Linked DNA regions of Homo sapiens: region 2 is linked to region 1. A link means that fine-mapping ties the variant in region 1 to the expression of a gene that starts in the linked region. Tissue or cell type: macrophages. Region 1 holds a variant in brackets; the other region holds the start of a gene. All regions are shown on one strand. Distances are between the middles of the regions.

Region 1 (4,256 bases):
CAGTGGCCTACCCTGGCCTCCAGCACAAAGACAATGGCTCCTGGTGACCAGCCAAGCCAGCTTAGAGGTGTCAGTCTGTTCACTAGGGCTGGGTGCCCACCAGATAACCCTGCCCAGACAAGGGCCCTTCCATCCTCACAGGTGTCTGGCTCAACGGCAGGTGCTGGGCACTGGCCCTTAGTTGGTATCCTCTGGGCCCACTTGTCCATGAAAAGGCAACAGCCCAGGCACAATGCCACCCCGCCCCCAATGGAGAGCAACTCTGGGTCTCACCTTTGGGGGAGAGGGTCCCTGGGTACCTCTTTTACCTCCCTCTCCCCCTCCCCAAGCACAGGCCTGCTTGAGAAGAGCAGCTGCTTTCCCTGCCCTGTCTGGTCTTGAGGGAACCAAGCCCCAGCCTGCCATGGCCCAGAGAGACGCAGGTGTCTCTGTGAAGAGCATCAGTACCAGGCTCCAGACCCTAACCATCCCAGGGAGGGGAGCGACGGTCCCATGATCAACTAGATAAGGGAGGAAAGGCAGTGAGATGGAAAGAGAGGGGTCATTATGTGGTCACTGCTCTGTCACTCTGCAGCTGGGGGTCTGCACAGTTTGCTTCACCCCTGCAAGCTGTGTCTATAAAACAAGGGTCCTGGAGGGAGTCAGGGGACAACTTGGAAGACCCGCAGGGTTTGAATCCAACAACCTGGGTTTAAATTCCTGCCCTGCCACAGGCTGACTTGTATGAACCTAGTCAAATTAATTAACCTCCCTTAGCCTGTCTCCTCATCCATACAATGGGTACAATAACCCATGTCTCACTGGTGTCCATGAAGATCAGATAATACAGGGTGAATATCTATTCTGTAAGTTGTGCGCAGTCCAGGATGCTCTGAGAGTCAAGTGGTTGAGAGAAAAGCCTCTAGGGTCAGACAGACTTGGGTACATTTGAATCCCAACTCTGACCAATCATTGCTGTGCAACCTTGGGCAAGTAACTTAACTTCTCTGAGCCCATTTCCTCCTCAGTAAAATAGGAATAAGAAACTCAACATCAAGAGGTGAATCTCCTGTTAACAACACCAGACCCTATCAGAGTGCCTATTTTACATTCTCATGGCACTTTGAACTTGACCTTAAAAGTATTTATCACAATTGGTAATGATACCTTTACACGCTTAATTTATTTTGGAGTCGCTGGGCGCGATGGCTCACGGCTGTAATCCCAGCACTTTGGGAAGCCAAGGTGGGCAGATCGCCTGAGGTCAGGAGTTTGAGACCAGCTTGACCAACATGGTGAAACCCTGACTCCAGTAAAAACACAAAATTAGTCAGGTGTGTAATCCCAGCTACTTGGGAGGCTGAGGCAGGAGAATTGCTTGAACCTGGGAAGTGGAAGTTGCAGTCAGTTGAGATCACGCCTCTGCACTCCAGCCTGGGCAACAACAGCGAAAACTCCTTCTCAAAAAAAAAAAAAAAAAATTTATTTTGGAGTCACCCAGTAGCCAAAAATATACCTGTTTCTGCTCATCACTGTAGCTCCAGAGCCTAGCACAGTGCCTGAAACACAGTAAGTGCTCGATAAATATTCTTAGAATGACAAGAGAGTGACAGAGTTCAGCAGCACAGCACAAAGCAGGTCTGGATGCTTAACAGGTGATGGATACTGTTAGGACTATTAGACAGCTCCTGCTCTCTCAGGTTTTTCTCCCACACCCAATTATCCTCTGCTGCCTCTTCCTTGGGTCTAAGCTCTTCCTATGAGTTACCTAAATACCCCCAGCAGCAAAGCGATTCCATTTCCTTTTCTTTTTACCTTGGGTC[G/A]GATAAGAAACACTTTCCATACTTTTTGGATTTAAAGACCCCGTTGGAGTCCTCCCTTAAGTCTCCCTTTAGACTTTCCAGAAACTAAAATAATCCCTCAAGTTCCTTTACTCCTTTGTTACACAGCATGCTCCTTGCTTCAGTCATTTTCCATGTGGCTCCGCAGGAGGTTTTAAGGTCAGTAACCTCAAACTCCACTGTCCCAAAATGCCCAGAAGCCAAAGAACGCTGGGTCCACAGGATACAGGAGTTACTGGGCTCCCTCAGTTTCCACCCTAGTCTGATGCCTTGGTACTGGTCAGAGGCCACAAGTCCACAGGGTAGCCCGTCAGCCCCTCGCTTGGATGGAAGTGCTCCTGCGTGCCCAGTTTCCTCTCTTGCCCAACCTCAACACATTTTATAAACAGAGAAACTGAGGTCAGGAGATGTTGAGTTCACGCAGCTTTTGGGGCAGCACTGCTTCAAGACTGTATAGAATGGCCGGACTCATATCTGTAATCCCAGCACTTTGGGAGGCTGAGGCGGGTTGATCACCTGAGGTCAGGGGTTCAAGACCAGCCTGGCCAACATGGTAAAACCCCATCTCCACTAAAAATACAAAAATTAGCCAGGCATGGTGGTGCATACCTGTAATCCCAGCTACTCAGGAGGCTGAGGCAGGAGAATCGCTCAAACCCAGGAGGCGGAGGTTGCAGTGAGCCAAGATTGCACTGCTGCACTCCAGCCTGGGTGACTGAGGGAGACTCTGTCTCAAAAAAAAAAGAGATTATACAGAGTCAGAGGCCTTCAGCCAGCTGGGGCGCTAAGCGGCATCTCTGCTCTGCCCTCCCTTCCTTCTCAGGAACCCACCTCACAATCCCTCTTCCATTCTTCTTCCTCTGTGGTCTTATCTCACCCAAGTGAGCATCCTTAAGAAGTGAAGACCTCTAAGGAGAGGGCTCCAGCCATCTTCGCCCTTGACATGCAGAGCCTTGAGTCTCAGCTTGTGCCTACCAGGCCCCGAGGCCCCCAAATCCAGCACCTGAGACAAGGTATAGAGAGGCACCCGCCTCCATGGAGGGACAGTGGCTCAAAGCATGGCGCTTATATGACAAAGCCCGCTGCAGGTGCCGATCCTCTTCCTCTCTCCTCCCCACAACCAGCCCTGTCACGGCCCCTCTGAACCCCACCAACCCACAGGCGCACACAAACCTAGCCCCTTTCTGCCCAAAACAAATCACCAGCCACTTCCTCTTCTAACCAGTCAACAACTGACCCTGTTGGATTGGAATCAAAGGAGTTTTTACTGTCAGTCCTTCCTCCCTCCACAACGACAGCCTTCCCCCACCCTACAAAAAATATCTAGATGAAGATAAAGATAGAGATAAATTCCAGTCATCGTAGCATGACGGGTGACTCAGACCCTGGGGTACAGGAAGCCTGAACAGACAGGCAGACCCTCTGAGAGGGCCAATGGCTACACTTCCCCGCTGGGCACACACTAATCCCCCTCCACTGCTGGCTCCCACTCCCAAGCTTGCTCTGAGTGGGTGGTGCCAAGGGGCATCACCAGGGAAAGAGATCCATGCAGCAGGGGTGGGGCAGGGCTTGAGTCCCAGGGGAATGCCACTTCCTCTGAAAGCCCCCAGAGAGCTGAGAACCTCAGGCTGCCCTAAACAATAGGCCAAGGCGTGGGTGCCCAGAACAGTGCCCCGGTGCCACATCCTGCCATTCTTCTCACAGACCACACCCTGCCACCCTTCCTGGCTACACCCGATCCTATCTCTAATGTTTACTCAGAGCTGGGAGCTGGACTGGCTGCAGGCTTGGGACAAAGCTTTCCTGCGAGTCCCTCTCACCCTTTCCAGCCTCTGTGAGCCCTGGGGGGTATCAGATCCAGGGCACGGCCGGTCTGGTCTAGCCCAGCTCAGGGGGGCCACAGCCAACACTCCCTCGGCTGTTTCCAGGCTGGTCAGGGTGGCATTCACCTGGTAGAGTGGCCAACATCAGACAGAGGCTGGGTCAACTCCCAAGCATGGGAGAAGAGGCACTTCCCCACAGCACCTCAGGTACAGAATCACAGTCCAGCCTGAGCTTCTGTGGCTGCCGGGACTCAGCTGACCCTGGCCCAAGGGCACAAAGGAAAACAGTGGCCAGGGAGAGACTGTAGCTGTGATGTTCCCACCTGGTCCTCAGGCCTCAGAGGCACCTGAGTCTTCTCCCAACCCAGTGAGTGGGTCGAGAAAGAGACAGATGGGACTGCTTGAAAGCGCCATTGAGGCTCCCAGTGTGATGTGTGCCTCCAGAAGGTCCCAAACCGAGAAGAGGTCAACAGTGTCTCTAGGAGGCCCTTCTCTGGAGGCCTTCCTGCCTCTAGAACCCAAGCCTGTCTCCAGGTTCTCCTGCACCCCAACAGTGCTAGAAGGCAGGGGTAGGCCTCATCCTTGTTTCCCAATGGCAAGGCCAAGCCTGTGT
Region 2 (4,128 bases), 33 kb after region 1:
GAAACCGGCATGTCGTGATCCTTTGGGGGATACTGGTTTGGAAGGCATGAACTCCGGGAGGTAGAGACCCACCTACTTGGACTGCTGAGAGCCAAGTACAGCCTAGTGGTCAAGAGCCAGCAGCATCGTCTCTGGCCGTCTTTGGCCAGACCCCTTCACCAGCGCCAGCGCCAGCGCCAGCGCCGAGGCGTCCTGCCCGGAAATTCCCAGAGAGTCAAAGCAAACTTCCCAGGAAAACTCTTCGGCTTCCTCCAAGCCTCTGTCACCGAGGCGGCTGCCAAGAGCGCCAGCGGAGTCTTTGCAGCTGCCGCGGGCCCTCCAGGGCGGGAGCCGCCGCTCCAGCGCTCGGGGTCCTCCCGGAAAGGTCCAGGGCTGAAGTTCAAAATTCACTTCCCGCCCAGGCCCGGCTCACCGCCCCGCCCGGTACTGTCCGGCAACCCCCACGTCTCTTGTCCTCTCCAGCTCCAGTTAAGTCCTGGAGCGCCTCCAGCCTGAAGACCCATGCGGGCAGCTGAGCGAATCCCGCGGGCGATCCCTGCGCGCCTGGGGACGGGAAGCAGCCAGAGCCGGCGCACACACACAACCTTGTGTGTGCGTGTGTGTTTACGTACGGAACGCGCGGGGTGGGAAAACAATGGCGAGCCGCTGGGAACTGAACGACTACCCGCTCCGCATCTCCCTACCCCTAGGCGCGATCAGCGTTTGCAGCGGAATCGGGATGAAAAGGCTCACCTACGATATCCCAGGGCGGGAGGTGGGGGTAGCAAGAAGCAGCCTGCGGTGGGGGTGGGGGTGGGACAGGAGCAGCCGGAGCAGAAAACAAACAGGATGCCGCGCTGGTCTGGTCCGCTGGGGAACGACCCTGAAACCGTGGCAAGGGGAGCGCGTCTGTCCCCCAGCACCCCACGCAACCATGGTGGAGGAGCTCTGCGCCTCGTCGCAGGCACCTGAGCCCCACGCAGGACGCGCGCAGGTCGCTTCGGCTTCCCGCTGAGAAATCCTTAAACTAGGCGCATAGTCGGGCTGATGAGAAAGACCTAGTCCTCTGCGGTCGGCGAGGAGCGGGTTGGGGGTGCACCCTAAGCTCGACCCGCGTGGTGAACGCGCGCGCGCGCGCGCGTACACACACACACACACACACACACAAACACACACACAGCCACGCACTGCCTTAGAGGCTGCCATCCCTCTCCACAAGGACCCAAGTCGGCCAGGGAGGAGCCGCCACTGCCCAGCGTTGTTGGGGGTAGGTGAGGGTCCGTCTCTCCTCGAAAAACTTTGCACAGGGTGGAAACTCGCAGGGAAGAGAGCCGGTGGGTGCCCAGAAACGTAGGGGCGCAAGTGTCAAACTTCAGAGAGCTGGGGAAATGGGCGCGACGGCGCGATCATGGCGGGGAGGGGTGCACTTACTACTCAGCCAGGCGCCGGGCTCGGGGCTCGGGGCTCGCGGCTCCGCGCTCCTGCTCCTCCTCCGTGCGGTCCTCGCGGCTGGCAGCCTAGGCTTCCCGCTCACATGCCCCCGCGACGCGGCGGGCGGGCCGGGTTGGGGAGGCTGGGCTGGGAGGGGGCACGCCCCCCGCCGTCGGCCGGGGAGTCGCTGCGGACCCACGGCCACCCTGGGTCCGCGCCCCACGGGGCCCGCCGTCCCGGGCGGCGAGCTTGGTTCCGGCCGGGCGGCGCCCTCTCCGCCGAGCCAGGCCGCTCTCTGCCCTCTGCCCTCTGCCCTGGGCTTGCGGCCGTCTCCCTGCCTTCCGCGGTCCTGCTCTGCGACTCGTCGGACGCGCAGCCGGCCCGCCCTCCCTGCTCTTCGGCTCTCACGCTCTCCGGCTCCAACCTCAGCGCCTCGGCTCGATTCCGAGTCAGGGCCTACGAGGCTGACCGCTGAGCTCTGGGCTCAGACCTGGGCTCGCCGGTTCTGGGCCCGGGTTCCAGGACCCGTGCTCACACAGTTCAGTTCCAAGCCGGGACTGGAGAAGGGCGCTCGCGGCTCGCTGCTGCGAGGCGACTGGACAGCCTAGAGGAGAAAGAGGGAGGGAGACCGAGAGCGCGCAGGGGGAGGAGGGAGGGAGGGTGGGGACTTGCAGAAGAAGGGAGGGACAGAGAGTTTCCTCCTCCTCCCTGCAGCCGGGTCCATCCAGGCATCAACAGCTGGAAACCTCTGTTGGAAAGGGGAAAGCTAAGGTTTACGGGCGGCGGGGAAGGGTGGGGGTGGAGTGAGGGGGTGTAGAGAAGAGAAGAAAGAAGGATTCTGCCCGCTCCCACTGCCCAGGTATGAGGGTCGCTACAGAGAATCTTCACTCCTTAAAGCAAGACCTAAGAAGTTATTGGTCCAGCTCCAAGCCTCCCAACCCCTCCAAACAGATAGCCTGGACTCGGGTTTTTTAAAAACCCCATTTCTCCGGACTTCCCTTAAGAACCTGATCTCTGCCGGGCGCGGTGGCTCACGCCTGTAATCCCAGCACTTTGGGAGGCCGACGGGGGCGGATCACGAGGTCAGGAGATGGAGACAATCCTGGCTAACACGGTGAAACCCCGTCTCTACTAAAAATACAAAAAATTAGCCGGGCGTGGTGGCGCGCCTGTAACCCCCTACTCGGGAGGCTGAGGCAGGAGAATCGCTTGAACCCGGGAGTGGGAGGTTGCAGTGGGCCGAGATCGCGCCATTGCACTCACTCCTGCCTGGGCGACAGGGCGAGACTCCGTCTCAAAAAAAACAAAACCTGATCTCACCTGTAGCTAGACGGATTCCTGATATCTCCAACCACTCCCTAATCCTGTCATTTGCAGCCTCTCAAATAAATCTTATTTTCTCCTGTCCCATTATATGGGAGGGTGGGGGAGAATGGAGAGTTGGTTTCCTTTCATTCAACGTATTTATCAAATGTCTACATATGACCGGGCGCAGTGGCTCACGCCTGTAATCCCAGCACTTTGGGAGGCCAAGGCAGCAGATCACCTGAGGTTGGGAGTTCGAGACCAGCCTGGCCAACATGGTGAAAACCCCTCTCTACTAAAAATACAAAAATTAGCCGGGTGTGGTGGTGCATGCCTGTAATTCCAACTACTCAAGAGGCTGAGGCAGAAGAATTGCTTGAACCCAGGAGGCAGAGGTTGCAGTGAGTGGAGATCGCACCACTGCACTCTAGCCTGGGTGACAGAGTAAGACTCTGTCTCAAAAAAAAAAAAAAAAAAAAGTCTACCTATGCCTGGCTTACCGGGGTGCTGGGGACACGAAGACAAATGAGACGGTGTCCTGCCCTTTCTGGATTCTGATTTTGTAAAGGAATGGGTGAATATACCATTGCAGTGAAGTGGAGAGGGCTAAGATAGGGCAGGCAAATGGGCACAGGGCCACCAAAGACACTGGGATATGGGGACTGGAACTTCTTGGGGGAGGTGGCATCTGAAATGGGTCTTGGAAGGACCTGTGGGTGTAGGGCAGATTAAAGGAGTGACAATCATGGACCTACTAATAAGTCTATGCCCACAGTGTGGGTGGCCAGCATGTGTTCAAAGGTGATGGTCAGCAAGGCTCTGAAGGCCTTCTAAGGGCTCATCCTTGCCCACTGCTTTGCCTGGCTAACTCCTTTTATTCATCTTTTAGGTCTCAGCCTAGACATCAACTTTCCCTGAAGCCTTTCTTGATGGCCATATCTGGGCCAGGTGCCCCATCTGTGGGCTCTGGAAAAACCCCATTTGTAAATAATATGGTAACCATTCATTTGTCTGTCTCCGCCCTGGACTGTAAGCTCCACAAGGGCAGGGATGTATCTCTCCAGTGTGCCTAGCCAGAGATTGGGAAAGAGCAGGCCCTTCATAAATACTTATTGATCAATACTTGTTGATGGAAGGAAATGGGGAGCCACTGAAGGATTCTAAGCAAGGTCTCAGATGGCATCAATCTAGCTGGAGGTAGGAAGGAGGCCAGTGACCAGACAATGGCAGTGGCCAGGGTAAAAATGATGCAGGCCTGAGCTAAGCTGGGAGTAGGGGGAATGGAAAGGAGAAAACAGGTGGGTGTAAGAGAGTGGGAGAAGCCAACATTAAAGGCTTGATGTTTGGATAACTATGGATGAAGCCATCCTAGAAATCATGAAAGGGTTACCCAAATTGCCGGGCGCGGTGGCT

Alleles and levels. Positions count from the first base shown, and alleles are read on the strand shown. Sizes are in standard deviations (SD) of each study's normalised expression.
In carriers of allele G in region 1, the expression in macrophages of the gene that starts at base 2,007 in region 2 tends to be higher than with A alone (moderate effect, 0.42 SD a copy in Nedelec 2016).

Evidence for each region. PIP is the estimated chance that this variant, and not a neighbour inherited with it, causes the effect. A credible set is the group of variants that fine-mapping cannot tell apart.
Region 2: it holds the start of SOX13, and the variant in region 1 is the best candidate, but not a certain one, in a credible set for the expression of SOX13 in macrophages (Nedelec 2016, PIP 0.83).

Annotation. Positions count from the first base shown.
Region 1 is chr1:204,103,722-204,107,977 of GRCh38, reverse strand. All of the region lies in intron 1 of SOX13 (SRY-box transcription factor 13), which reads right to left. Among named protein-coding and RNA genes, the nearest start is that of SOX13, 33 kb to the right of the region's middle. RefSeq lists an enhancer at 1-772. The variant G/A (reference allele first, on the strand shown) is at 1,803.
Region 2 is chr1:204,070,994-204,075,121 of GRCh38, reverse strand. It overlaps SOX13 (SRY-box transcription factor 13), which reads right to left and starts at 2,007. Exons shown (of 14, transcript NM_005686.3): 1 at 1,411-2,007. RefSeq lists an enhancer at 636-1,328.